Linked DNA regions of Homo sapiens: all the other regions are linked to region 1. Evidence: fine-mapped expression QTL. A gene starts in region 1. Each other region holds a variant in brackets. All regions are shown on one strand. Distances are from middle to middle.

Region 1 (10,555 bases):
CTCACACAGATCCAGAGGGGGCCACGTACAAGGTTGTGAACTGCAATTTAATTTCTGGTGGCAAGGAGCAGGAGGCACCCTGGCTGTCCCTCACTGAGAAAGCAGGTGGATACAAAGTGATGGATGTGACCACCCTGCAGTTAGAGACCATGAATTAGATGTTTGTGTAGAAACACGGAGGGGCCATACAACATAGTGGAGGTGGAAGAAGAAATAGAATTAGTTATAATCCAGTATCATTGCTGTAAATCTGAAATACACACACATGCACAAAATATCATCATATCCATTTTGCACATAAAAATATACACATTAAACACATTTATTTAGAATGATGTGGGAGGGGGGCAATGAAAGACAGAAATGGGGGTTAAGGGGAATAAATAAGCACAATAGAGGAACCTCCATGGACCACTGATGACATTGCGCCATGAACCAAAGAGTGTTATTAACTCAAGCCTCTGTTCCTGAGAGCCAGAGTAAACAAAACAAAACAAATGTGCTCCGTTGAAACTTTCAAGCTTCCTCCAAAGGGGCCTGTCAAATTGGGGATATCCTACCTGCCCTCAGTTATCCCCTCTTAGGTCCTGAAAAATGCTAAACCTGGCCTAGACCACTGAAAGGGTTGATGACGTTTCTGTGTTTCCTCTCTATCCTGTTGGGGTATTATCCATGATATTGTGATTTTCAATATGTTATATTAACCTCTATATGGTATACATCTCTTGCCACCTACTTATATTTAGGGTTCATGATTCTAAGTCCCACATATGTGGGTGTCCATGACAAAATTCCAATCTTAGATGATACTTTTTGCTGTTCTCTCTTTTTCTAATAGCAAATAATTTTCATGATAGTAAACAGCAAATCGAATAGCAAAACTTAAATGCCCATCACTAAGAGACTGGTTAAATAATTATGATACATCCTTACAATAGACTATGCAGCCACAAAAACAAATGAAGAAGGTTTTAAGGCACCAATATAGAATTAACTTGTAGACATAGAAGTAAGTGAAAAAAAAGAGCGTGGAAAATCATGGGGATAATATGCTACAATTTACAAGCTTGTATATCTCAAGCATCTCTGAAAGAATATATAAGAAACTAATATTGGTTGCCCTAAAGGAAGAGACCCAGGTGACTCTGGACAGAGATAGAAGGAGATTTTCTGTACGTTTATACCTTTTGAACTTTTGGATTATGTGACTGCATGAACTGTTTTAAATTAATATGTAAAAATCAATAAATTTGGGAAAGGGGTTAGGGAGATGTTGGTCAAAATAAACAAGAAAAGATAAAAGAGGAGGACCAAATTAAAAATATAAAATAAAATCTACCAATAAAATTTATAAATTTATAATAGTCAAGGATTAAAAGTTTTCAGAATATTATATCATATATATGTAGATACAGAATAAGCAAACAGATTAAAATGATTATAACTATGCCCGCTATTGGTAGGTATAAAGTGATGCTGAATTTTAACAACTTAATTTAAAATCTTTAATTTTAAAAATTAATTTAAAATTAAATAATTTAAAATTTTAAAAGGTTTACAGTAGGTTTAAAAGTGGTGCTGAATTTTAAAAATAACCATGTATGTCAGAACTTATACACCATGTAAAGAATAACCTGTTTAAGGTCACCTTAAGAGGTAATACACTTACTTAAATGTAGCTGCTACTGCTGAACCTATTCTGGATTTCTCTAATATAGGGTTTTAAAATTTGGGGTCCATGGAGTCTGTGGATAAGATTCAGAGGCCTGTAAATCTGGGCAGGAAAAATTATATCTTTCTTTGTACTAACCTCTTTATGAAAGTTAAAGTTTCCTGGCCAGGCGCGGTAGCTCAAGCCTGTAATCCCAGCACTTTGGGAGGCCGAGGCAGGCGGATCACAAGGGCAGGAGATTAAGACCATCCTGGCTAACATGGTGAAACCCCGTCTCCACTAAAAATACAAAAAATTAGCCGGGCGTGGTGGCGGGTGCCTGTAGTCCCAGCTACTCAGGAGGCTGAGGCAGGAGAATGGCATGAACCCAGGAGGTGGAGCTTGCAGTGAGCCGAGATTGTGCCACTGCACTCCAGCCTGGGCGACAGAGCAAGACTCCGTCTCAAAAAAAAAAAAAAAAAGGAAAAATAGAAAGTTAAAGTTTCCTTTAATTATGAAAGCAATAGTAATACCTAAATTTTTGTTACCAGTGAAAATTCTGAGTCTAATTTAATTCTGTTATTTTCATAACACATTTTAGTTTTTGCAGATATCTGTAAATATCATTCCCAGGTTGATATTAGACATTTTTAGATCTTCTTATTTAATATGTTATTAAAGAAGAAAATATGTTACTATGTCACAATTTTTAACATTTTGATAACTGTATTCAATATAATTGGCTCTTTATAATTCTATATATTTTCTTTTATACTTATAAAAATGATGATTCTGAGACAGAGTCCAGGGGCCTTACCAGAGTGCATAAGCTTCCCAAAGCACAGAAAGTTAGACCTCCACACCTCCACAAATAGATCTAATTTCAGGGCAAGAAAAGCAGTGATGATGCTTTATGACCATATGTTCTTTTTGACAAAAAAGCAGTCTTTAACAGTTTTGGCTAATTGCAAAAAGCCAATGCATTCTCAAAGGAAAAAGATATGCCAACACTGAAGATACTTTTGAGAAAATTCCATCATCAAAGAAGATGGTTTTTGTTTTTTACAGACCCAGTCTTTCTCTGTCATCCAGGTTGGGGTGCATTATTGGAGTGATCATGGCTTACTGCAGCCTCAAACTCCTGGGCTCAATTGATCCTCTGGCCTCAGCCTCCTGAGTAACTGAGGCTACATGTATGCACCACCGTGCCTGGCTAATTTTTTATTTTTTATTTATTATTTTTTTTTGTGTGGGGATGAGGTCTATGTTGACCAGGCTGGTTTCAAACTCCTGGGCTCAAGCGATCCTGCTGCCTTGGCCTCCCAAAGTGCTGGGAATTACAGGTGTGAGCCACAGTGCCTGGCTAAGATGGAGTTTTATATACAGAATTATCAGGCCTTCTTTCATATCTCATCCTCAATATGCAAATAACTAATTCATTTAGCAAATATTTATTGAACGTCCATTATGTATGAGGCACTATTGTAAGTATTGGAATAAGTGCAGTGAACAGGTCAGATATGGTAACTGCCTGGATGGAGTTTATGTTATAATGGAAGCAAATAGACACAAGAAATATGATCGCATCAGGTATTTATAAGTGTTATGGTGAAAATAATGCAGAGTAATCTAATCTAGGGAGTGAGAGGGTGACTAGGGTCACCCATGTGGTGGCTAGGTGCCTGGGTCTGGCGTTGCACTTCTTCCATTCAAATCCTGGCTCCATGCACCTCTGGCTCTATGGCCTTGTCCAGTTGTGCACTCTCTAAATCCCAGTTTTGTTACCTGTAAAATGGACATATTAACATTACCTACTTTAAAGAGGTGTTTTAAAGAAAATGGCTACTCCTAACATCTCCCCAAGAACCAAGCACAGAATTTTGGAAGTTTTAATATATTTTCTTAAAGAAGTCTCTTTCTCAGCATTGTAAGACAATTAACTAGATTCAAGTCTCAGAGTTGTTAAGTTATTTTATCTTAAGGCATCCAACGGCACAGATTGACATTAAAGTGAAAGAAGAACTAGCTTCATCATTGCCATTGTTCTTTACCATAGCCCATGGGAACACAGGACCCGGCTGACTGAGAAAAGTGAATGAGGGGAATTATATCAGAAATGACAGAGAAGGATGGGCAGGATTTCTGGCAGGCACAGGTATTTCTAAGTAAGAAATGGTGTGGTTAGGAGAGAATACTCTCAAGAAGGGGAGAGATGGATTCTGCGGCAAAGGGAGGTTCCTTCATTCAGTGTTTATGGAGAGAATAAAGGCGCTGGCCCCTCCAGTGAGGATATGGAGTAAACGAGACAATCAAGTCCATCACTCCTGGAGCCTGCATTCTAGTGTGGAAGACAGACAGCAAATGATACATCAACATTAAGAAATTCATGAGTAAATAAAGATAATTTCAGGCAATAATAATTACTCTGAAGAACATAAACAGGGACCTATGATAGAAAAGGGGTGTAAAGGAGTTTGGAGGATTTAAGCTGAGTGAGCAATCTCATCTCTATTTTGATAAGGTCACTGTGGATTCTGTGTGGATAACACATTGGATGTGGATAAGAACAGGAGCAGAGAGACCTCCAATAGCAGGAGGCTGCTCTAGGGGTCCTTGCAAGGGATGCTGGCAGCTTGGACCCGAGTGGTGGGATGCAGATGGAAGAGGCAGGTGGACAGATGAGACAGCTGAAGCAGGAAAAGCAGGCACAAAGGCTAACACAACACAATGTAACAGAACGGGAGTTTAGAACGGAAGGAACACTCCAGAGTCATTCTGGTCCAATTCTGCAGATGAGGAAACCACATCCCAGGAGGCCGAGGCGGCTTGCCCCGCATCTCAGAAGCCGGGCAGGCCCTGAGCCTTCTGACCTCACATCCTCTGCCACACCACAGTGGAGAAACCAGAACTGGAGGAGCAGCCAGAATGCAGAGAAGAAAAAAGAGGTGAGGGAGCGAGGAGGAGGGAGAACAGAGAGAGAGGGAAAGAGGCAGCGAAGGGGCAGAGAAAATGAAAGAAAATGCTGGTGGAATGAGAGGGAAACCACAACAGGTGAAAACAGGGATGGCGGAAGGCAGGGGAGAGGAGTGAGACGGCCCTTGTTGCTGGGATTATTTAGGGCGGATAGTTTCCAGTTGAGGTTCGGTTTCATAGCCCATTGCCTGGCTGCCTGCAGCTGTCAGGGCACCAGAGGCAGCAGTTGGAGCAGCTGCCTGCACCACCTGAGCCACAAGGACAACGGCAAGGGAAGTGCAGATGGGCAGGAAGTCCCTCTGGGTCGGAGCCAGGGTAGCCAAGATCACATTGTTCTTGCCCACCGCGTGGGATGCTCAGGCTTCCCAAGGCAGCCCAGAGACCAGACCCGTCCTTTATCCTTAGCATGGCCACCATCATCACCATCATCGCCATGCTCCCACTTCTTAGGATCATGTGCCGGGGGCTTTGCATGCATTTCTCTCTTTCATCCTCACAGAAGCACTTGAGGGGGGTATAGCTTTCCCCAGTTTACAGATAAAGACACGATGGCTTCATTCCTTAACTCACTAACCTCATTTCAGAGCCAGGAAATGGCAGAAAGGCCCTGCTGTCGTGTTTTTTGTTTGTTTGTTTGTTTTTTTGTCTTGTTTTCTCCTCTTGAAGAGGACACACGGAGCCCTGGGTTGACGTTATAGGAGGTGTTGGTGCCGTGCACTGAAGGGATCTGCTGTTTTCTCCTTCCTGCAACTGGAGGTCACTCAGCCTGGACTGATGAGGCCGGGGAAGCCTGTGCTCTGTCTGGTCCACACAGCCCCCTCAGCCACCCCAGGGAATGCTCAGATCCAGTTGCACAGGTAGCCCACAGAATACAAACAGAACTTTCTTTTAGAATTTTTATGCTGTTTTATTGTTTCATACAGACAACTACCGACCTTCCCTTTTTTCCTTCAAGGCCCCTTTCAAATGTCACCTCTTCTATGAAGGTTTTATTTCTTTCCAGGCAAAATAAACCACTCCCTTTTTGGTGCCCTCATAGTTTTACATTTTGGCCTAAAGCACTTGTTCGCCTCCTCCATCAGAGCATGGGATTCTTGAGGGAAGGAACTGTGTTTTAATCATTTCTGTATCCTTGGCATCTAGCACAGTGCTTGGCACAGTAAAAGCTGTCAATAAATGTTAGCTGAACTGAAAAGTAAAAAATGGAAAGGGCATTTGTTGGGGCCAGCATAAGTCAACTGTTTCCATCCTTGTTTCCTTAACTCAGAAACTCAAATGAAGAAAGACATTGTCAGTCTCATGAGCAGTCCATATTTTTTTTTATTGGTGAGAGATAAAGTAAATGGCATGTGGATTTCCTTTGGAAGAATAACAAATAAAATTCTTTTGTAAGGATGTGAATTATAAAATTAACTTTTTTTATCTCCAGATTGTCATTTTGCAAGGAAAAAAATATAAGTAATAAATATGAACATACCTTTTTTATTTCAGACTTTTGCTCCATAGGCAATAGAAATGAGATGGCCAATTACAGTATTGAAGCAGAAGTACAGATATAACTCAGTGCAGAGGCAAATATGGCACATGATATTTTCATATTTTTATGTGTTACTATGAGTAACACTATTGCAAATTCATTTTATTTATGATTTGGTCTTTGTAGCTCCAATTTCATTATTAACTGAAATTTCATAGCATCATTCTTACTGACATGCATTGAAGATAAAAATGTTCTATATTTTCCTCATCTATCCTTGTCTTTTTCTTTATTAAAAATGTAGCCATTGGCAAAATAAAAGAACTAGCAATAAGCATACTGAAATCACAACTGAGACACATGACAATAATCTATAACCATGACACCTGTCCAGGCTGCATCCAGCCAAATATGGATCCAAAAAAAGGAATACTCATATTTGTTACTTATATTTTTTTCCTTGCAAAATAACAATTTGGAGATAACAAAAAGTTAATTTTATAACTCATATCCTTATAAAATACTTTTATTTGTTATTCTTTGTCTCTCGTCAATAGAAAAAAATATGGACCGCTCATGAAATTGACAATGTCTTTCTTTATTTGAGTTTTTGAGTTAAGGAATAAGGATGGAAACAGTTGACTTACACTGGCCCCAACAAATGCTCTTTCCATTTTTTGCGTTTCAGTTCATAGTAGGAGCTCACTCAGGACTTAGCTGTCAGAGAGAGGACAGTCTGAGGCCTATGTGCACTTCCCAGCACAACATCTCACATCCTCCTCATTTTTTATCACTCAAGATATTGAAAAACTAATATGCAAGGATGCTGTCATTATAGGGGTAATCTTCAATCGTCTCTAATTATATTTAAAATTATGTCATAAACTTCAGAAAGTAACCAGTATTAGTGTATACCTTATTATTAGCATAATCCAAGCTGGCCTCACCTACAAATAGAGTCATAATTATAAAAATTTTATCTTTTAGTCTCCTACTTTCTCAAAATGGAATTTGTCCCCACTAAAAGTTATCCTTCAAAGTAGTGCTTCACCTGTGCCCACAAATACCTGTGGCTATTGCACAAATATTGTGTGGCTTCTACCAGGTTTTCTTCCTGACCTAGCTCTCATTTGTTGATATTTGTTATCCCGTCAAACCTTTCTGTTGCTCAGCTTTGCAGCATGGATGGTGCAAAAATGCAAATGTTGCTCTGTCTGATACTGTTCCCAAAGCTGGCAAATTGTAGGATGTCACCATGGGGCAAGCTCCATGAATGAAGGGATTAGGGGTGAAGAGAAGAGAGAACTGACCTTTCTAACAAAGTTCAGAGACCTAAATTACTGAACTTTTCCCTAATTCTGTATTAGTTTCCTATTGTTGCTATACTGAATTACCACAAATTTAGTAGTTTAAATCTGCACAATTCATTATCTTACAGTTAAGAGGACAGAAATCCAATCAGGGCCTTATTTGGCTATAGTCAAGGTGTCAGTGGGGCTGTGGTTTTAGCTGAAGGCTCTTAGGGAGAATCCTTTTCCTTTCCTTTTCCAACTTACAGATTTACCTGCATTCCATTGCTCATGGTCCCATCTTCCGTCTTTAAAGCTAACAATGTTGCAGCTCTCTAACCTTTTTTCAAAGTAATGTATCCCTTTAACTTTCCTGTTTTGCTTCCCTCTTCTACTTTTTACTTTTTCTTTTTTCCTTGTATTTTTTTCTTTTTTTTTTTTGAGATGCAGTCTCGCTCTGTCGCCCAGGCTGGATTTGGAGTGCAGTGGCGCAATCTTGGCTCACTGCAACCTCCACATTTCGGGTTCAAGTGATTCTCCTGCTTCAGCCTCCTAAGTAGCTGGGATTACAGGTGAGCGCCACCATGCCTGGCTAATTTTTGTATTTTTTTTTTTTTTTGAGACGGAGTCTCGCTCTGTCGCCCAGGCCGGACTGCGGACTGCAGTGGCGCAATCTCGGCTCACTGCAAGCTCCGCTTCCCGGGTTCACGCCATTCTCCTGCCTCAGCCTCCCGAGTAGCTGGGACTACAGGCGCCCGCTACCGCACCCGGCTAATTTTTTGTATTTTTAGTAGAGACGGGGTTTCACCTTGTTAGCCAGGATGGTCTCGATCTCCTGACCTCATGATCCACCCGCCTCGGCCTCCCAAAGTGCTGGGATTACAGGCGTGAGCCGCTGTGCCCAGCCCTCTTTTCCACTTTTAAGGGCCCTTTTATTACATTAAGCTTTCTCAGATAACCCAAAAGAATCTCCCTATTTTAAGGTCACCTGATTAGCAATCTAAATTCCATCTGCAAACTTAATTATCCTTTGCCATAGTTCTGAGGATTATGACATGAGCATCTTGGGGGAGAATATTATTCTGCTACCAAGAATATATTTTTTAAATATTCTCATTTCCATAGGTTATTGTGGAGTAGGTGGTGTTTGGTTACATGAGTCAGTTCTTTAGTGGTGATTTCTGAGATTTTGGTGCACTCATCACATGAGCTGTATACATTGCATCCTATTTGTAGTCTTTTATCCCTCACTCCCTTCCCACCCTTTCCCCCTGAGTCCCCAAAGTCCACTGTGTCATTATTATGCCTTTGCGTCCTCACAGCTTAGCTCTCACTTATGAGTGAGAATATATGATATTTGGTTTTCCATTCCTGAGTTACTTCACTTAGAGTAATACTCTCCATTCTCATCCAGGTCACTGTGGATGCCATTAATTAATTCCTTTTTATGGCTGAGTAGTATTCCATTGTATATATATACCACAGTTTCTTTATCCACTCATTGATTAATGGGCATTCGTATTGGTTCCATGATTTTGCACGTGCAAATTATGCTGCTATAAACATGTGTGTGCAAGTATCTTTTTCGCATAATGACTTCTTTTCCTCTGGGTTGATACCCAGTAGTGGGATTGCTGGATCAAATGGTAGCTCTACTTTTAGTTCTTTAAAGAATCTTCACACTGTTTTCCATAATGGTTGTACAAGTTTACATTCCCACCAGCAGTGTAAAAGTGTTCCCCGTTCACTGCATCCATGCCAGCATCTACTGTGCTTTGATTTTTTGATTATAGCCATTCTTGCAGAGTAAGATGGTATTGCACTGTGGTTTTGATTTGCATTTCCTTGATCATTAGTGATGCTCAGTGTTTTTTCATATGTTTGTTGGCCATTTGTATATCTTCTTCTGAGAATTGTCTATTCATGTCCTTAGCCCACTTTTTGATGGGATTTTTTTCTTCCTTGCTGATTTGTTTGAGTTTGTTGTAGATTCTGGATATTAGTCCTTAGTCCTTTGTCACATGTATAGATTGTGAAGATTTTTTTCTCACTCTGTCAGTCATCTGTTTACTCTGCTGTTTCTTTTGCTGCGTAAAAGCTCTTTAGTTTAATTAAGTCCCAGCTATTTATCTTTGTTTTTATTGCCTTTGCTTTTGGGTTCTTGGCCATGAAATCCTTGCCTAAGCCAATGTCTAGAAGGGTTTTCCCAATGTTCTCTTCTAGAATTTTTATAGTTTCAGGTCTTAGATTTGAGTCCTTAATCCATCTTGAGTTGATTTTTGTATATGGTGAGAGATGGGGATCCAGTTTCATTCTCCTACACGTGGCTAGCCAATTATCCCACCACCATTTGTTGACAAGGGTGTCCTTTCCCCACTTTATGTTTTTGTTTGCTCTGTCAAATATCAGTTGGCTGTAAGTATTTGGGTTTATTTCTGGTTCTCTATTCTGTTCCATTGGTCTATGTGCCTATTTTTATACCAGTACCATGCTGTTTTGGTGACTATGTCTCATAGTATAGTTTGAAATCAGGTAATGTGATGCCTCCAGATTTGTTCTTTTTGCTTATCTTGGTTTGGCTATGCGGGCTCTTTTTTGGATCCATATGAATTTTAGAATTGTTTTTTCCTAATTGTGTGAAGAATGATGGTGGTATTTTGATGGGGATGGTGTTGAATTTGTAGATTGCTTTTGGCAGTATGGTCATTTTCACAATATTGATTTGCAGTAGCATCCAAAGATATCAAATACCTAGAAATAAATTAGTAAATGCAATGCAAAAATTCTAGGCTGAAAACTACAAAACTGCTGAAAGAAATTAAAGGAGACCTTTGAAAATGTGGAAAAGTATATTATATTCATGGATTAGAAGGCTCAATATTAAGACAGCAATATCCCCAAACTGATCAATAGATTCAATGCAATTCCAATACAAATACCAGCTGGATTTTTATCAGAAATTGACAAGTTAATTCTCTAATGTGCAAAGAAGCATTCAAGGTAGGACACATTAGTCATTTGTGGCAAATATTCATGCAATTCTGTTCAAAAAATTATTGAACTTCTATATTATTCCAATAGGCATAGTAAAAGAGGAAACAGAAGCATAACAAAGTGGTAAGACAGCCCTGGGTTTAAATCTTAACTCTTTGCCCATGACCTTTA
Region 2 (10,555 bases), 200 kb after region 1:
ATAATTTTGTTTAATAATCCCCTCTTTAGGTCAAGTTTTTACCTATGTGAGAGTATGACAAAAATCTAGAGCTTCAGTACTACTCTCAGTTACCATAATTTTGGGATTCCAGTCTCAACATGTCATTCATAGGTTATGGTGTCCACATAATCATGCATTTAAGTTTGGGTTATTCCAGTCAAAGAGATCATTTGGTATTCTACAGATGGCTGCATACAAACATTTAAAACTTTTGAGAGAATATAAAACACCAGGGAGACTATTACTGTGATTAGTAGGAGAATAACAACAATAGTTTGAAGTATATTCCCTACCCAGGGTCTCTATAAATCGAACCAATCAAAATAAAATGATTCAAAGAATGAGCTGAATGAAGAGTCTACACATTTTAACCAGAGAGCCTATTGGTTAATCCTCTGCAACTGAGTCTCTATAATATCTGATATATTCAACCATATGGAGTAAGTGTCAGCAACTGCACATATTCCTCCCTGTTCAGCGAGTAGGTAATCTAGAGCAATTCTATTATAACTCAACTTCAGCAAAATAATTTTAACAAGTCTGTTGTACAACCATAATCTTTGTAGTAGAACCTGCTATGGAGCCTCTTAGGAGGGATAAATTTCTAATTATTGCCTTATTTGTAGTTACTCCAAGCAATGGAAAAAAGGACCTAACAAATGATACACATCCAGAAGAGTGAAGCCATCTGGAAATGTTCTTTTTAACCTATGATGTAGTTTAACAGGTGTGGGCCAACTTTCTGTTTCTGATTGATTATGGTGTCTGACTGATTATGGAGTAATAAAGTTACTATTAAAATTTCCCACCTACATTGACACTTCATCTTCCATTCATCAAGGCTTAAGATTACCCATGTATAAGACTGGCTGAAAAATCCTCTATAAGAAAGTACACCCTGTGGGTGGACACAAGGCCCGTTTTCAAGTTCTATTGTTCATAGAGGCATAAGCAAGTAAAAGATTAAGAGAGCTAAGAGTTTCATGATGGCAGAGGAGTCTTGATCTGTGATCTTGGGAAAGCTGTGTATGTCTAGGATGCCATCTGCTTTTGAAGAGAAACTTCCCTATTTAGCTTTACCTTAAGGTCTTGAAGGAGTGTACAGTTCCAAGAGTCTAAAAGGTCCTTCTGTTTTGTAAGATTATGAACCCAAGTTTTGAAGTTCCAAAGTCTCATTGCCATATGGGTGGCAAGGGCAATCTTTCTCTGATGCCATTTCCAGAAGATCCAGCATCCAGGTTCTAGATTATGAAGGGTTCAATTGTCCTTAGTAGGTGGAGCATGAAAAGATTCCTTCACCTGTTGAAAATATACTTTGGCATAATGCATTAAAACCTTGCAACATTTAGTCATATCAGTGTATAGGAGAGTGGGAGATACATGAGGATCTACTATTAGGAGTATAGGCCTTCTAGTGACTATTTAATAAGGGGTTAATTTATGCTTTCCACTGGAAGTGAATCAGATTGTCTTCCATCTGCAATATCTTTGACCAAGGCAATACAGTCAATTCAGTTATATTTGCTTAATGCTATAGTGTCTGTAATAACTCATTTAACTCTTTTACAATTTTTCCAGTGAAACAAGTACTGTGATCACTGAAGAATGTCCCATTAGGGAAATACATTTTCCTATAAATTTTTAGCTACTGTTGTACCACTAACTTTCCTACATGGGAAAGCTTTTGTGAAGCCAGAAAACATGCATTAAAAATGGCAATTGAATGATATCCCTCCATAAATGTTCAAACTGCCCATTCAGCAGTGGAAATGTACCTGAAGTTTGATTGTCTTCCCTGGATTATGTGTTTGAGAAAACAAACGTGCTCATAAACCATTTTGGCAACTTAAAATAGTCACCACACCAACATTTCTTTTTCAAAATTTGGATTATTTTCTCTCTTCTATGATGTGTCATGGAATGCAAAGCTTTTAATAGTGGAAATTTTAAGGATGCAGAAAGGATGACCAGATGGCCATCCAGGCTCTCCATGAGTGCATGCTTGACACTGAATTTAAATCCTCCTAAATACAATTTTTGTTTCTCCAATTCAGGTGTACAACATTGTTTATTAAGTGGGTTATCATAGGTTATGTGACTTGGATCATGGAGTTCATGCAAATTGCATATCTTAACAATTTCAGTACTGGTTGAATTAGCATGAAAATCTGCCAAAGAATTCCCTTGTATTTAATTAATTCTTTTTCTGCTTGGGGTAGTAGTTTTGTAAATGAGTCAGCCTCTTCATTAGAGTTCTGGAAATTCTTACCAAGTCCAAATGAGATGAACCTAAAGTTATCAGAAATCTGTATTCAATAGTACTTGTCATGGTCCTTCCCAAACTTTCCATGAACCTTTTGGAAGACTCAACTCTTCAAGATTATAATTGCTAGTAAAGAACTTTCAGAAAAAAGCATCAGAATTAAGCAATTAACTGTGGACAACAAGTCTTAAAATAGTCATGGTTAAAGACACAATTGGCAAGTAAATTTGGTTATTCCTGTAGCCCATAATAATTTAACATAATAACCATAATTATGACTGATAACATATACCAAGACATCTCAAAATTTTAGAAACTGCATACAATTTTTGACCACATATTTATAACATATCCATAAAAATATAACTCAAAGAAGGTTAAATGTAATTTCTTATTTAATAATGCTTCCCATATGATTTAATATATCAAATTATCTCTTGTTTGGATGCTTCAGAGGCCCTTTGGGATATCCCCAAATTAGATTGAAGTCAGAAAGACTTATTTTTAGAATTTGAAATTTGATTTTGGAAAGCATGTCAAATTTGTCAAAGGTTTATAACACTATCAAAATCAGTTCACAGGTCATTGTAAAATAATAGTCATTGATTTCATGAAACTGATAACTAAAAAAGCAAAAACCTTTACTCTTTGATAGAAAGAATACTGTTTTTCTAACAATCAAAAGACCTAATAAAGACAGCATGAAGCACAAAAAATATCTTTTTCTTTCTCCCCTGCCCCTCTTTTATTTCAGTTTACTCAAAAGATGAACAAAAATCTTTTACTATCTCTTCTCAGTGTTACACAAAAATCTTGTTTAAAAGAGAAAGCCAAATTCTAATTTTGTATTAGTGTACTTTTGTTATTAATCCTCAATTTTTAGAAAACCTTATAAATAGTTCCCATCTAATTTTAGCCACCTTGATCATACATACAATTTCTTTCACAAGATTCCTGTTTCACAAACCTTCTACAAACTTTTCTCTTCCTCATTTTGGAAGAGCCAGTCATTTTACTTTAGGACAAAGTTACTTTTTTTTTCTCTTATCTAAAACATATATTTTATGTAAGCTTCACTTACCAAAAATGTGTCTTACTTTCCTGATACAAGATGTTGTTTTAGTTACCTTATATTAATTAAATTTTTAAAAACTCTAGTACCTTAGTTTTTAGTGAAATCCTAGGAAGTTAGAATTTTTGAACTGTTGTATATCAATATTTTGTTGATGAGAACCATTTCATAATTTTTTGAAACATATTTCCTCATAAAATTATTTTTGGGTTTATTAACAATCCTAAATATATTTAGTTTCTCTGTATCATATAAAAACAAAGTGTTGAAATATATAAACTTAAGGTTATGCTTAATAATTGTTTCAGTATTTTAACTCACTTATAAACGAGTCAGACTTTCAATGAGTATCTATTATTTAGCTTAACATGACTTTAAGATTTTTAATTTCTAAAAAAAGATTTTTAAAAAAATAACAAGTTCATTTATAAAATTTCATGTCCTTTACTTTTGTATAATTTACTCATTTTTAACAATTATGCCTAATTTTTTTTTTTTTTGAGACAGAGTCTCACTTTGTCACCCAGGCTGGAGTACAGTGGCATGATCTCAGCTCACTGTAACCTCCACCTCCTGGATTCAAGCTATTCTCCTGCCTCAGCCTCCCTAATAGCTGGGACTACAGGCGTATGCCACCATGCCAGGCTAATTG[T/C]TGTGTTTTTATTAGAGACGGGGTTTCACCATACTGGCCAGGCTGGTCTTGAACTCCTGACCTCATGATCCACCCACCCCCCCACCTCGGCCTCCCAAAGTGCTGGGATTACAGGTGTGAGCCTGTCCCTTAAATTTCTTACTAAACAAAACTGTAGCAGGACGAGCTGCAGACAAAACCCCTCAGATACCAAGTTAAAGAAGGAAAAGGCTTTATTCGGCTCAGAGCATTGGCAGACTCACATCTCAAAAACTGCACTCCCGAGGGAGAAATTTCTGCCCCTTTTAAAGGCTTACAACTCTAAGTGGTCCGTGTGAAAGGGTCATGATTGATTGAGTAAGTAGGGGGTATGTGATTGGGGCTGCACGCACCAGTGATCAGAACAGAACTGAACCGAACAGGGAGTTACACAATGCTTCCTCAACAATGTCTGGAATCTATAGATAACATAAGTGATTAGGTCAGGGGTTGATCTTTAACTACCAGGCCCGGAGTGTGGCACCAGGCTGTCTTTCTATTGAATTTCACTTCTGCCTTTTCTTTAACTCCTACTTTCTCTTTCCTTAGAGGCAGAAATTAGGCAGAAGACAATATGAGAGGTGGTCTCCTCCCTTAAAACTAGCTAGTGGAATTTAGGAAATATCATCCCTAAATATAGTGACTTAGTAGATTATTGCTACCAATAGGGAAGAAGGAAAAGGCTTTAAAAATTCTCCTTATTTTTCTTAAAGATGAATTTTTCAAAGGAACACAAATGTCCTCAATCCTCTCCCCAGGGAGTTTCAGTAACCAGGAAAAATTAACTTTCATCACAGTAGAAGACACTTCGTCACATCAAGTAGACATTATCCCAAACCATTACTCATTCTTCTAAAGGGTCATTCAATTTTTCCCAAAACAATTTACTCTAAAGATTTTTCTCCACCCACTGACCATTGTACCCATTTTAGAAAGGGGTGAAGTGAAACAACTCTGGCCTTTTTCTTGATTGACCTGCATGATTATTCCCTAAGTGATTGTTAGTTAGGTTGCTCATTGTAATCTCTGTCTTTAGCTTTTTAAATTTCTCTCAACTGAAGTAAATAGGACAGACTGTGTGGAGTTCTATAATGCTGGGGGATTAGTAGGTATCTCTTTGACCAATCTAGCCTTCAGTAGATTCCATCTTTGTTTTAACCCTATTGCTGTCTGTTTTATTTATCCCATTTTTAATAACCATCTAAAATTATTACCCTCATATTGCATCCCATTTTTAATAACTATCTAAAAATTTTCACCCTACATTTGTATTTCAAAACAGATGGCTTAGGTAAAACAAGGTAGAAAATTTACATCTCAATGGCACAGAGGTGAGACATCAATGTAATATCATCATTTTCCCAAACCTAGGAAGGAGAGTGTAGGTAAAAGACCAGTTAAGACAAGATAGCCAAGAAAGCCACCTTAGACAAAGGTAAGATTTGTTATGTAAATTTAAGCCAATGCTGTTTTCATTGTTATTGTTTCTGGTGACATTCCTTTTTCTCTTCCTGTTGCACAGAGGCAGACACCTTACAAATGGAGATTTACTTTGTAAATGTAAATTTCTTTTGCAAAAGGCTTTCAAAATGGCTAAATAGTGAAAGTTGTATTTTGGAGACTGATTTATCTCAGTAGGAGGTCTTTTTAACTGAGTTTTTATTTCTTTTCAGACCATTAAAGAATAGAGCAAAGAAAGCATTCTCTCTGGGTGGACTCAGAGCAGATGGCTCTCAAAAAGAAACAAGCCTAATTTACCTGGAGCCATACCTTTTATAAACATTTTACCTAGCTTTCTTTCCGCCTTTGAGGTGGAATAGTAACTAAGTCAAAAGTTTAGCAGCTTCAATTTTTCCTATTAATTACTAGCTTAAGCTTTTTACTTGTCCTTTTAAAGGAGTCTTTTAAAAGAAGCAATACAGCTGGGTGCAGTGGCTCATGCCTGTAATTCCAGCACTTTGGGAGGCTGAGGTGGGTGGATCACCTGAGGTCAGGAGTTTGAGACTAGCCTGGACAACATGATGAAAACCCGTCTCTACAAAAAATACAAAAATTAGCTGGATATGGTGGCAGGCGCCTGTAATCCCAGCTACTCAGGAGGCTGAGGCAGGATAATCGCTTGAACCCAGTAGGCAAAGGTTGCAGTGAGCCGAGATTGTGCTACTGCACTGCACTCCAACCTGGGCGAGAGGGTGAGACTCTGTCTCAAAAAAAAAAAAAAAAAAAAAAAAGAAAGAAAGAAAAAAAACAGGCAATTCAAATACTGAACTTTTTCAGAAGTTTCTTCATATTGCTAGGCATCCTTGGGTGAGCCTAATTCGGGAGCCCTCATTTTTAAATGAACTTTTTAAATTGCAGTGTTAATTTGGAACATTCTATTGTAACTTTAAATTATCTTTCATAAGCTTTTGCCATTTATGTAAGTGTTTGCAGCTTCTGGGGCCTAATATTTCTACATTTAAAGGTAATAGTCAGAAGGTGGAGTTCTCAATTCTTCAGAAATTAAGGATCTCATTGTTTTGTTGAATCTAGGCTTTAGCTGTCAGATCCTCTTGCTCAACTTAGTCAAGAATTTTTCCTGACCTAAGTGTACAAGAAAAAGAAACAAATGAAATAGAATACAAAAATCCCTGCAAATTTCTGAATGCCAGAATTTGTACTTCCCTGCAGTCATTGCCATTTATTGCTGTTGCAGAATTTTGCTCCTTAGTTCAGCTAAAACCAGGTTCTTGTCACATGAGTAGGAAAGATTAGGTGGACAGACACACTGAAGGGTGAGAAGAGAATTTATTGGGTGAAAAGAAAAAAAAGTCTCAGCAAAGTAAGAGAGAGTCCTGCTAACAGGCCCTCCACCTCACAGATTGAATACCAGACCACCACACATTGCTGAAGAGACCAGCCTCTTCCCTGCTGCACAAAGCGTGAACTTCCCATGGCTACACCCTGTTCTCCCAGGACACAGGTGGGTCAGAGATTCTCTGGGGACCCTCTCCCTTATCTGCCTCCTTCATCTATCCCTGCCAGCTTCTGTCTGACTCAATCAGACATCTGAGGCCTCTAAACGGATCCAGTCCAGTTAACTGTTGGAACCAATCTGATCCTGGACTCAGTCTGATTCTGGACCCAGTCCAGTTTCTGTTGTGACTTCCAAACCCAGTTTAGATCCAATATTTGCTCAAACAAAGTCAGATAGCTCAAAATACAAATTCATAGAGCTTTTGAATCTGTGAGACAACTTACCTACAATCTCTAGTTGCTGTAAGAGAGCAATGGACATAATGGGCTTGGTATGTACCTCTTTTGATAACTCCATGTGCCTGGAAGTTGTTGGAAGTTCTACTTTGAATCCCACTTCTGACACCATCTGTCAAAACAAAAACTTTATGCAAATTAAATTTAACAGTGTCAACTAAGAAGAGACAAAAGACCAGATTGCAATGCAGTAACACAAGGCATTTGTTGGGGTCTTAGCAATTGCAATTGAAGAGACATAGATTTCGCTTAAAGCCAAATTGTATTCTGAGGAGATGAAGGGGAGTAGGGATTTTCAAAGGGATGCTGATGGTGATTACATGGTTGTTGTTTTAAAAGTTGTTTTGAAAGAATTATCATTGGTGGATGTGGCTGGCTTAGTACATGAGTCCATAGTTCATTGCTTGTTGCTATTTAGGAGTTGCTGCAGTAACAAAAGTCAGCTATTTTTCATGATATTCTGGGTGTGCGGGTTTGGCCCAATTCAAAGTTTCGAGGCGAATTTCTGTTTTTGCAAGGTGGAGATTGTGCAAATAGCCCTTCTTAGAATGGCTTCCTGATTCCACTTTAGACCTCTGAACCAGAGTAATTTTATTTTGTAGCTCATATTTCACAACTGAATTTGATTGAGCAAAGAATGATTTATGAATTGGGCAGCCCCCAGAACCAGAATAGGTTCAGAGTGATTTTGGGGCTGCTACATAGTCAGATAACCTTAATGGACAGAAAAAGAAAACTGATAGATAGAAAACAGAAGTAAGGTATATAAACAGTTGGACTGGCTATAGCTGGATGTTTGCCTTATTTAAACCAGGTTTGAACAGTTGGCTATCTGCAATTGCCTGAGACTGGGCTACTTGTTATGAGTATGTTACAATGTGTTTATACATCAAGTCAGATTACGGTTCACTATGTATGAAGAAACCTTTAGGCCACACTTAATACATGTAGGCAGGCAGCTTTAGGCAAAAGTTAATTTAACAAGATCTTGAAGGCAGAACTCCTTAAAAGGGTAGGTGTCAGGAAGATGAGCAAGTGGCTCCCAGGCCAAGGAAAGGATGTTGCATCAGATCTTTGGTGTTTCAGGGCATGAAAAGATACTCTGGCCAGTTCCTCGGGAAGCGACTGAGGGAAAGGAAAAAATCATCATTGCTATTGGCCCATAAAATGTAGAAATCTCAAGCTAGTCTGTCTGAAACCAGTGTCTAGGAGCTGGTGGGTAGCTTACTGAACACGAGCTTTTCTAATGCTAAACATGAGCCTGCACTGATGCCTGTGGTAGAAGCCAGAATAGAGGATACATACTGCCACCCTGTGCCTCTCGACCAGCTGGGTGATCCCTCAGCTCCACTACCACATCCCTCTAGAGCAGCTGCCATTCAGCAGCCAATACTTCTCCTCATGGTGACAGCTGAAGAGGACATAGCCTTATTCTCTTTCCAGCTAACTAAACTAAGGGGACTCTCCAATTTTAGCAGTGGTTTAAAATAGCTGTAGCGAGCTGAGGCCGTGCCACTGCACCTCCAGCCTGGGTGACAGAGGGAGACTCTGTCTCAAAAAAAAAAAAAAAAAAAAAAAAAGAAGGGTAAAAATGAAAAAAAAATCTGATGTAATCATATTAAAATGGCTTGCTTCATAATCAACTTTTTGGCTATGTCTATGTGATGTTTGATTTTTCTTTTAACTGATCTGACTGATTTCATTTAACAGAAACAGAGATGCATAATCTAGGGCATAATTTAGGCACAACGAGAGTCACCTATGCACAACCACTGAAGTAATTTTAGTAACTGTTGGTGGATTCCATATAAATGCAAGACACTCTCCTTAAGGAAACAGGAGATTCAAGGCTGGGGGAAAAGGGTTCGAAATATAGTAGAGTCACAACACACGTGGGCTCACACATACACAAAGCAGCATATTACAATGGTAAAGGAAAAGAAGAAAAGCTGCAAATAGTCAAGCCATCCAATCTTTAGGCTCTTCAAGAGACTTCTTAAATCACATTTCACCATTGACTAATGGTCCAATTTTGGTCAGATTGGATTTCAAGGCTGCTTTAATAACCTGCCTTGAGCCATTACTTCTGCAGTTGGATGACTTGCATCTTGTAGACATGGCCTTTGCCTCTGAATGTGCACTCAGAACTGCATCAGAATCAAATGCTGTTAAAAAGAATCGATATTTCTGAGTTGGGTTATGGAGGAAAAAACAAGGCTGGAAACTGCATGCTTTCCTATCTTGTTCCACTGACCAAGACATCTTCCTTAAACATGCTTATCTTATAAATACATTTTGGTAGATTTCACCATTTTCAATATCACCGAGGAAGATTAAAAGCCTCTAGCATATATCTAAACTCTGAGTTTGAAGTGTAAATACAAAAACGACTATACTGAAAGAATTAATTTGCCGAGGAATGCACTGTTACTTTGAGGGTCTAACTCTCTGAACACGTGTCAGAGTTCCTAAGGTGACCTGTACTTTAATGTAATATGGAAATGAGGACAAATGACAACAGTTTGGCTCCATTTATTTTTCTAATTCTGTGGGACTTAATTTCACACAGGACAAGCTAACGAATTTTTCCCAAGAGAAGTTGTAAGGGAAGTGAGTTGCTCCTGGGGTTATAGACCGTGGCTCCACAGAAAATGTTGAGCTTCATGTTTCTCACATCATCCATAGTTCGTCCTAGGACACATAACTGATAGTTAATCCTGGAGGATTCAAGATATGCCTGGTTCATTTCAGACTCCAAAGAGTCAACAACAACAACAGAAAGGTGGCTTTCAATTGAGTACACTCTTGTTTCCTAGCAACAAAGGCCACAGGAAGTTGAGGCCCATTAAGATGAAGAAGAAAACACAAAGCTGTTATTGCTCCGAGGCACTGAAATACCTCTTTAGACCACTGAACTTTCAATTAGTCTGTTTTATAAATTAATCATTGCTTTCATTGAAATTGTGTGTGTGTGTGTATATATACATATATAAAAGAAACAAGAAGGAAATCATAGTTCTATGTCATAAAGCAGCAGCACTGTAGGCTGAATTACAATCTTCATCTAGATTGAAGATTCTGAGAAATATCTGTGTATATTTAAATATCTTTTTGACAATGGTAGACCTCCTTTTGAGTCAACAATATAGGAGTCTTTGCTCTAAAAATGAGAACTTTTTAGTATGTCTAATTTTCTCATGAATGGCAAATTAGCAAATAAAATATTTGGGTGCTTAATCTCTAATCTGCATAATAATAAATACTCTCAAAACAAAAT
Region 3 (10,555 bases), 82 kb after region 1:
CCCACAGCAAAATGATAATCAGCCATAGAGACAGAGTTTGGATCTGGGCAGTTTGCCTCCAGAGTGCCTCATCACCACCACCAGCATACACCATCTTTGTGATAAGGGCTGCCATTAAAAAGAATATTTCAAGAGGATACAAGGAAGAAGCTGATGCAGAGATGAGGGAAGACTAACCCAGTAAGTCATACGACAGTCAGCATTTAGCGTGTATAGAGATTAGCTGGACTCCTTCGGGCTTCTCTGCTGGATGGATCTTGTTTTGCAGATGAGGAAACTGAGACTGCAGGATTAGCTAATCATCAAATAATGAGGGTGTAGCAGAACCAGGATTTGATCTCCTTGGGTTCTTTTCCCTGGACTCCTATTGGTATACAGAGTGGCACAGAGCATGAAGACAAATTCTGCCTCAAAATGAAAGAGGCCATCACTAAGATGAATAAGATGGAACAACAATTTAAAAGAGAATGCCAGCACAAGACTGTCTTAGAGATCGCTCAGACTAACCTTTTGCTGGATGAATTAAACCTCTGTCAATAATCTTATTAAAAAGATTGGAGACAAATTTGGGAATTAGAATGACTGATGTCTGCCCCCATCTCCTCTACCCGAAACACAACAGGAGAAAATTTTGCTTGAAAGCCTAGATGCTGATCCAAGCAATGAAAAGACTCTGGAGTAAACACGTCATGTGCTTCTTCGTTAAATGAGCCCTCTGCCTAGGAAATAACCTCAATGGCTTGACACTGGCATTTTGCATTGCTTGCTTATGCCACTTAAATTATAATTTGTTCCATCAGGGGACTTTCTCAGAGTTGGAAACAGCTCCTGGAACACAGAACCAGCATTGGTGGATTCTTGCTGCCTCCTTGATGTTGCAAGCTTGTCAATGTCATCAGAAAGCTAGCTGTGGTTTACTGAAAATAATTTAGCTGCCTAGGCTTATGCAGACACGCACACACACACACAGAGACAGAGAGAGAGAGACATAGACACAGATACGTTATGTAGAAAAATCTCATGGTCTGCTCTTGTTCTAAATCTTGTACAGACTTGCCAGCACTCTTACGTATCATTATTTGATTTGCTTATTCTATCTCTTCACTTGTCAGTAAGTCTTTCTCATCTTTTTATTCATTTCTTTTGTAAAGAGAGTTTAGACTTAAACAGAGCTGAGCTCCTCTAGCCCGTTCTTTAAAGGCAAGGCAACAAAATAATAAGAATGGATAATAATAACAGTGTACTCTCCGATATGCACTAAACTAAGCACTTCACACAACTTAGCTCATTTTGTCCACACAGAAACCCTAATGAGATAGGTACTCTAATCGACTCCATATGACAGGTGATAGAACCAAGACAGAGGTTATACAACTTGCCCAAACATGCAGTGCCTCAGATGGGGCCCAGCTCTGGCCGATAGAGCCCTCTGCCTGTATTATTGACCCTGCAGCTGCCTCCTTGTGATTCTTGAAAGTATGCCAGGCTCTGTTAAGCTGAGGATAAGTGTTCTTAATTCCCTTTGAATTTAGTTATTTTTGAATGGATAAAAAAGAAAATATTTGGCATAACCCTTATTCCCCATAGCAGGGGGATTCTGAGGCATGATTTTAATTTCCCAAGTGACTTAAATAACAAGTTTATAATCTGCCACTCACATTTCTTTGCCTACTTAATGGGAGCATTTTTATTAGAAAGAAATATGTTTAAAAAGATACATAAGCTCTGTGAGAGATGGGTACTCATTGGTTTTGTTAATTACAATATCTTCAGAGCCAGGAACATGTGCCTGAGACTTGGTGAGTAGTCAGTAAATATTTATTGATTAAACGAATGAATAAGAGTTGTAGAGAAAATCCAAATATCAATCCATATTCAGTCACACAGGTGCCTGTCCCCCTGATAAGATCATAATAAACTCCTTCAAGGCACCACTAAATGTTGACCTCCAGCTTCCTGAGGCAGATTATTCTGAAATCTGGGAACAGTGTCATATTTATTGAAAAGGTCCCTTACCCCGCCTGAGAAAACAAAGTCACATGTCTTTGTGCTTCTGTGTTAAGTTTCTTTGTCCCTTTGGAAATAGAGGGGAAAGGCATAGCAAACAGGCAAACTCATTGACAGTCATAACCCTATTAAAGCTATGACCCATGTGCTTCAGTTCATGAGAAACTTGACATGTAAACACTATCCAAACAGGAATTCTGATGAGTTGTGGTATTCTCAAGCAACATAAATGAGAATAGGATTAAAATAAGCTGTTTTCTCCCGTGGACTTAGAAGTTCCTGGAACCCTCTCACTCTCTACTCCAGAACCACCTCCCTGGTCTCACCCATTCAACCTCTGTCATCCCACTTGAAGGCCATCTCCTGTCGCTCTTCCTCCTCTGCCTTCCCACACAATGGACTCTCAGCATGTTATTTCCCCTGTGACCTAGGGTTCTCCAGAGAGCAATATTTCCTCTGTGCTGTCTGTCTTTCTCTGCATCTAGTCTCTTAACTTAGCATGGCCAATGGAAGAACCCTCCAGGTAGGATGAGGAAGGAAAAGAGTAGGCAAAATCCAAACTTTCTTCACAGACAGGGAAGAGGGGAAAAGGTTGTGGATAGTCATAGACTGATACCTTTGTCCCTTTTACTCATAAAATCACTGCTGTACATTTCAAGGGTATTTCTCCCAATTCTACAGATTTTTTAAGGATCTAGTAAAATCCTATTTCTCAAATAGTATTTATCAATCACCAAAGAACCCTTAACTTTCCAAAAAGAAATGGCATTTATAAATCCCATAGGCCAGGCTTAGAGTATGTTTTGTCATAGCTCTTAGTTTTCTACATTATTTTGTAGCTTATTTGCTGATTCAAACCAGCATTTAGTTATTTTTTGCAAAATAGACTTAAGATTCCTTTTTCTCCTGTGTACAGCACAGCCCACTTGGTTGGTACTATATTAAACTGCTCGCTTGCTATAGCCATCCTCCTGTGTGCATCAAAACTTCTCACTGTCACATTTCTGCCCAGATATTAATAAACATGAGTGGGAAGGGGAATAAATGCACGAAGTGCTGCTGCTTAGCCTTTCTCAGCCTGTGGATCTTCCCTCATCTGTTTTGAAGACAGGGTGAAGATTAGGCAGGCAGTGAGCCCAGCTGTCTTAGGGAGAATCCCTAAGGGGAGATGCCTGTCAATTGAAACAAACAAATTTTTGGATACCAATATGGAAACCTGGATGGAGCCAATTTCCATGCTACAACACTGCCATTATGACTGAGCACATCAGGATAACAGGAAGCAGATGGCTTTCAGAAAAAAATGAAAAATTCAAGGGCACCACACATATGGTCTTATTTCCCAAACTTTGAAGGAATTCTGCCTGTGAAAGTGTACCTGTTTAATCTCTCCCAAGTAAAAGGCAAGTAACCCCTAAAGGGCACCATATATTTCTTTTAATAAAAAGTTGGCTCTATAACTTTGTACATGCAAATGTTTGTCAGTCTTGGGCCCAGAGCAGTGGAAGGTTGCTCCCGGGAAGATAGTTCTGGGAATGATGTTATATTTATTGAAGCTATATACTGAACCTCTGCCTTTGCCAACTTGTGTCTGTCTTGCTCTGCATTTCTTTCTACCTTGCTGTTTCTGTTAGCTCTGAGAACCAAGGAGGAAGATGAAGCCATAGATCTAAGAATGACAGACCTGGAAAGGACTATTCACAAAGGTGACCTAAGGAGACGCTGGAGCTCCAATAGCCTGAGGGCCAAGAGCACAGGCTCTAAATCAGAAGTGGCATCCAGGAAGCCTAGGACCACACTCTGCCTACAGATGTGTTTATTGGGTTCTTGAAATGTTTAAAGAAACACATTTGGATTAAATGGATGCCAACGTTTATAAATTAGGAGATTTTACATCCAGTCAGATATTACAAAACATCAGAAGACTGGGGCCTACAATTGCCACACAGCCTCAAAATGCTGGCACTGAGTAGCCATTCTTGAAAACATACATGTGCTCTGACATTTGCCATGGCCCCTTCCTGACTGTGTTTACTCATTTGTGTTACCTGGCTTGCCTAGAATGCCATGGACCCCTTTGTCCTAGTTTCCAATCCTGGCTTGGCCACTTAGAGTTTATGAGTCATTGGTGACATCAATTAGAGCTTTTGAATCTTTATCTGTTTAGCTTTATGATAGAGGTAATACCTCATCACAGTGTCAGGTGAGTTAAATACGATATTGCATGTAAAGTGCTTAGCCTGATGCCTGGTGCATAAATACTTAGTATATCTTAATCATTATTACCATTAACATTGTTCATATCATTGAACAAGCTTGTTAAAATATTTTTCTCACTCTCCTTTGTAATATAAATGAGAAAATACAAAATATGGCCACAGATATAAGCCTCCTGTTGCCTTTATCTTTAGGGTCATTAGACGTACTTTAGAACAATTAGATTATGTAATTTGCCCAAAGCCATGTAGAAACTGGGCAACTGTCTATTTTAATTAATCATCATGGGGAGACAGAGCTGAAAGCTAAAGGTTCTATGGAGGAATGCCATGGTGTGGGGCAGGCCAGCTGTGGCACAGAGGTCACTGGTTCCACTTGGCTAGCTAGGTAAGGACACGCACTAATCACCACCAAGAGTCAGTGAGTATTGTGAAAGGACAGCTTGGCTGGGAGACAGCTGGGTTTCAATCACATCTCAGTCACTTCTAGTTCACATTGGTCATATAACCCTCTGAGTTTTATTCATAATTTATAAAATGAAGATGGTGACAACTGTCTGGCAGTGTTGTTGTAAATGATAAGCATCAAATGCTTAGCACTCAGTAAGTGCTCAATAAATGGTAATTATAAATAAAAGCCAGAATAAATTATAATAGGTCATCTGTTGAAAATGGCTAAAGTCTTTATTGAAAAATAGCAATCCCTAAGAGTTTATTATGAACTGCTGCAAAATCTGAGACACATAACCCCAAATTAGTGTCATGTGCTTTTTGAACCACTGTAATTATTGTTATTTACCAATCACTATTTTCATTAATGCCTCATTACTCCCAATGATATTCCCAATAATACTCCAGGGGATTTTTTTAAATTTTAAATTTGTGATTCATGGTTTCTTTCTAATATGAATGGTATTATGCCTCCTTTTAGTTTTAATTTGGATATAAAAATTCTGCTTTAGCCCTCTTCACTACTTCAGTCTAGTCTTTGCTGATTCCAGCAGAGAGTTACAAATTATATTTTCACATTATATTCAAAATACTTTGCCACTCACTGATGTTTTGAAGTTGCTTGGAACGAGCACATCTTGGTTCTTAAAGCAATGTATTTGCTCAGTTCGGTGTCTTCTCTCTCGAGTAGCCTTACTTCTAAAG[C/T]CCCCAAAAGCAGCCTCTTTCTCTTTTTGGCCCTTTCTTATACAAGTTGGGCATCCCCAATTCAAAAATTTGAAATCCAAAATGCTCCAAAATCTGAAACTTTTTGAACGCTGATATGATGCTGCAAGTGACATTGTTAACACTGCAGAAAATGCCTATAGACAATACAGTGAAAATGTGTGATGGGCTTATTGAAGGACTAGAGGAGCATGCATTCAAAACAGAACAAGAAATCAGGGCAGTTTATAAAATCAAAGAGAGAATTCTAAAACAAGAAACATTGTTAATGAGGCAGAAGAGCCTGGAGGAAACACCCAGCAGAATGCCTCCTCATCCCTTGAGGACCCACTTCCTGGTCCTCATCAGCTCCTGATGTTTCTTCTCACCTAAAATAAAATACAGTGTACAGTAATCTTTTAATCAAAACACAGCATTGCAGGTGGGGACTGCAAGCCTGGCGTTGTTTGTTGTTGCATTTGTTGAACAGCTGATGCAGGCATTCTGGTGGTGCCACTGTGCTGCTTAGTTACCCTGAACATATTAATTTTTCACTGTATGAATGTATGTCATATTTTTTGCTGTTAAGTTCTTATGTGTGAATCAGTGTATAAAAATGACTGCTTATAAGTAGCATATAAATTCAGAGTCAGGAATGATGATGCCAAATGACCAAAGATTGTCCCCGTAGGTGGCTGAGAGAGTAACACCTTTGCTTTCTGATGGTTCAATGTACACAAACTTTGTTTCATGCACATAATTATTAAACAATACTGTATAAAATTACCTTCAAGCTATGTGTATAAGGTATATATGAAACATAAATGAATTTCATGTTCAGATGTGGTTCCCATCCCCAAGATATCTCATTATATATATGCAAATATTCAGAAAATCTGAACAAAATCCCAAATTCGAAACACTTTTCATCCCAAACATTTTGGATAAGGGATGCTCAACCTGTAATGGAGGCTTAGGAGAGCATTTGATCTACCTGCAAAGTTGTCTCTGTTAATATAATTTATTTTCATTCACAGTCTGCAAATATTTATTAGTGCCTACTAGTGCCAATCCCTGTTCTGATAGTAAACTGTTATGAGCATTTATATGTCACCTGGCACTGTGCCTCACTGATTTAATAGTCTCATTGATTTAACCTAATGACCTTGTGAGATAGAAACTGCTAACATCCCTATCTTAGAGAAGAGAAAACTAAAGCATATAAAAGTTAAGTAATTGGCTCAACATGCTCAGCTAGTTAGATACGAAGCCAGAAATTAACCCGGATCTGCTGATTGCTGAACCCTAAACTCTTAATCATTGTACCAGAGTGTCTCAAAGTGAGGGCCTGAATTTGTGACCTGCTGCATTAGAATCACTTAGGTTGACTGCTAAAATTATAGAATGCATAAGAGGCATAAAATGCTTAGTGCACAGTAAGTGCTTAATAAATGGTTAATGATAAATAAAGACCAGAGTAATTATATAAAAATTATAATAGGTCATCTACTGAAAATAGCTGAAGTCTTTATTGAAAAATAGTAATCCCTAAGAGCTTAATTATGAAATGCTGCAAAATCTGAGACACATAACCCCAAATCAGTGTCATGGCCTTTTTGAACCATTATAATTATTGTTATTAAGTAATCAGTATTTTCATTAATGCCTCATTACTCCCAATGACATTCCCAATAATGCTTCAGGGGATTTTTTTAAAATTTAAATTTGTGATTAAAAACTAGCCCTAGACCTACTAAGTTTGCATTTTTAGCAAATTCTGTGGAGAATTTCTGTACACAGGTTAAGAATTTTGAGAGCCACTGACCAGAGTTTTTGAATACCAGATCTAAGGAAATGGGTCTAAGATGGGGAAGCTTCTTCAAAGTGAAGGTGAACTTCCATGAAAGAAAGTAAATAAGGGTTCACACTAAGAATCACTTGTGAAAGATGCTCTCTAGGGCTAAAGAAATGCTATATAATTAAAATGCGCTGACATTCTGCCTCTGCTTCCTTTCAAGGCTATAGTCACAAGGAATATGACTCCAAAACCCAGTTGTAGGCAGGGTAGTACTGAGTCACTTTCTAAAATTTCAAAAAAACATACAGCATGCTTCCAACTCTAGAATTTCCAAATAAGAGGATTCGAAGGCAGCAATGTGGTTGGGGCAGAGGGTGGGGTGGAGGTGGGGGTGGATCTAAAAAACCCAATCATTTGGGTTGGTTTTGGAGTGGGTTAGGAGAGCTCTCCTAAGCCATTCTTTGTGCCATGATTGTTGAGGGCTTATCTTTGATCAGACTGACTCTTCAGCCTCAGATAATGGCAGCCAGGAGGTGAATTAACTCATGTAGGACTGACATTTATAAACTTGTATAATGGAGGTGAAAGGGGGCAAATTGCAAACATGATTCCCATACAATCAATTATTTCTGTGATGAAAACACCCTCTCCTAGATGATCTATGTCATGGACAAGTTCCCTTAGTTCTGGGGAGGCTGGGCTGGTTATTTCTCTGCTGCTCAAAAAACAGCTCTGAGCCTCTGGCCTGCTGGTGGTGAGTCACCACTGTCAGCTTTGTGCACAAAAGTTCAACTTTTCCTTTCCCATGACCATATCTTAATGTGCAGAAGAACATTATCTAAATGTAAATGCTCTATTAAAACAGAGACAAAACTGCTTCAATATTGCAGGGGAAGGAAACAGAATTCTTTTAAACAAATAGAAAAGCAAAACTCAATAAAGAAAAGTAATTCATAGACACAGAATAATCAGCAGTCTACTATTTCATGAACTTACTGTTTTGGGCCTTTCTTTTTTTTAATGTAAAATTAGTCAAAGTTTAATAACAAGGGACAAAACATGCTTTTCTGAGCACTAGTATTTCTTATTAGGTTCCTAAAAGATTGAAGAGAATATATTTTAATTGCTTGCTTAACACCAAAGCCCCTCTGATTTTTCTTCCCATATCCATAAAGTTTTATAAGATTCCTTATTTCGGAGCCCTGCAAAGTAAAAATATTCGTCATAAAGCAGAACTGAGCTTTTTATTGCTCCTCTGCCGAATAAGAACTTCCCAAGGGAATGAACCTATAGATCTCAGGCCTCATTCCCTAGTTTCCTGCAAGGCAGACAGTTGGTCAAGCTTTGGTGGGTCTCTTCACATTGCCTCCTTCCCTGACCACCATTTACTCATTTTCTCCTTCAGCCCTTCTGCCTTGCTCTTGGTGACTTCTCAAACCCCGTCTTCTTTCAGTGGTAATCATGATGATGATGATGTTGATGATAAGCATTGGCTAATAACAGGTCACAGTTGTTCTGAAAAGAGACCTGAGACCAGAGACCTGCCTGAGCTCGAAAGCTTGCCTGCAGCCAAGGACTGATGTGGGGTGTGAATGTCCAGCCCCCACGCCACAAATCAGGTAAGCCTGTGGTGTTATTCACAACCTAGAATTCTAGTAGGATTCCCTGCTTCTCCCACTTCCTCAGTAAATGGCTTGCACAAGAAAACCCATCTGAGGCTGTCTCTAGGGAAAGTGACCTAAGACACTTGACCTCCTCTGTATCATGGGGCTGCTTTAAGGATAAAATAGTAAAATAAATAATAAGTAAAAAATAGCTCATATAAGTACAATTTAATAGACGTTAACAAAAGTAAAACACTTAGAACAGTGACTGGCACATAGAAATTGCTGAATAGGTATTTGTTTTTATTAACGTTATAATGTTATTCCTTCAAATAGCTCATGAATCTGTTTGCTCCTCTCTGATCCCACTGCCCTTGCTCCAGGCTAGACTTTCCTCATTTGTTATTTTGATGACAATAAATGTCTCCTTATCTGATCTCCCTTCCCTCTCTTCCTCTCTCTTTTCCTTCCTTCTACAAATATTTGAGTGTTTATTGTATGCCAGGCACTGTTCTACAGGTGAATTTGGGTAAGTGACCTGAGTCTCAATTTCCTTGCTTGTAAAACAGGCTACTGTAAATCTACCACATCCTCCGGTAGTGGTGGGATGAAATGAGAATATGCACATAAAGCACTTATCTCATGCTTAGGAAACACTCTATAACCTTTTTCTTTTCATTTCTCATCTCTCCTTGCTAATCATTTCCAGGACTGAAATAGATAACAGAGATACCCAAAGGGTTCTTGTTTACTGACCATGCTCTCCATTTGACAGATATATTCTTCTATTTAAAGGCCTTGTAATAGAGCTTTTCTACCAATGATAACCTTGTTTTCCCCAACAAAAGCACTATGTTCTTGGCATGTATTATTGTAATATGCATGCTACAGTATAAATCTTTTCAAACCATGAGTTGATGTTAAGGGCTACGCCATGAATTTCCAGCAAGGGGTCACCTTGAGCAGGTTAGCAATCTCCTTTATGTCAAAGGCCCCACACTTCACCCCACATGTGGCCACTCCAGTTAATGAGAATACGGCCCATGATGAAAGCCTGCGTGCTGCATGCAAGCCGAGATAGCAGGGTGAACAGAGAATAAAGCAGAGCTTGAACCCAGTTATGTAAACAGTTCTTTCCGTTTCTTGATCTTTGTGGAAAGAAGTTTTTTCATCCTGCTTCCTTCAGTTCAAGTTCAGGGGTTTCACAGTTTCCTGGGTTCCTTTTGAGGTCTGCCATAGTTTAAATGAATAAAACAGAAAAGTAAACTTCATCCAGGACTTCTGCTGGGTTCCAGCAGAATGCAGGAGGACTGCTTGGTGCTTTTATTGTGTGTGGTTTGAAGATCAAATCTTATCTACAGTTTCTGGATACTGGAGGTGTGTGTGTGTGTGTGTGTGTGTGTGTGGTGTGTGTGTGCTCACACTGAATTACTTTACATTTTCATTTTATTTTTGCATATTTTTTCCTTCCAAGTTTAGTTCACGTTTCATTCTTCACTTTGAAAAATGGCTCTATAGGAGTTTTGCTCAGTTGAAAACTTAGATTTTTTTCTGTCAAATACAAGATGGTAACTGAAGCTTAAAATGCACTGTTTTGTTTGGTTTTAGACATGACTATTCACAGTAATTTGCTAAGACAGCACATATTTCTTTTGATTTATAGAATCCCACTTAAATGCTGTCTATCATCACAGTAATTATGGGTATTTAGATAGGCAGAAGACATATATGTTTTAACCTTGATTTCTTTCTTAATATTTGAGCTTCTAACTGGTTTT

What was found. PIP is the estimated chance that this variant, and not a neighbour inherited with it, causes the effect.
Region 2: its variant is the best candidate, but not a certain one, in a credible set for the expression of HMHB1 in subcutaneous fat (FUSION, PIP 0.50).
Region 3: its variant is the best candidate, but not a certain one, in a credible set for the expression of HMHB1 in lung (TOPMed, PIP 0.74).

Annotation. Positions count from the first base shown.
Region 1 is chr5:143,807,709-143,818,263 of GRCh38, forward strand. It overlaps HMHB1 (histocompatibility minor HB-1), which reads left to right and starts at 4,453. Exons shown (of 2, transcript NM_021182.3): 1 at 4,453-4,596. The coding sequence starts at 4,560.
Region 2 is chr5:144,006,066-144,016,620 of GRCh38, forward strand. No RefSeq gene overlaps it. Among named protein-coding and RNA genes, the nearest start is that of YIPF5, 160 kb to the right of the region's middle. The variant T/C (reference allele first, on the strand shown) is at 4,009.
Region 3 is chr5:143,889,259-143,899,813 of GRCh38, forward strand. No RefSeq gene overlaps it. Among named protein-coding and RNA genes, the nearest start is that of HMHB1, 82 kb to the left of the region's middle. The variant C/T (reference allele first, on the strand shown) is at 5,379.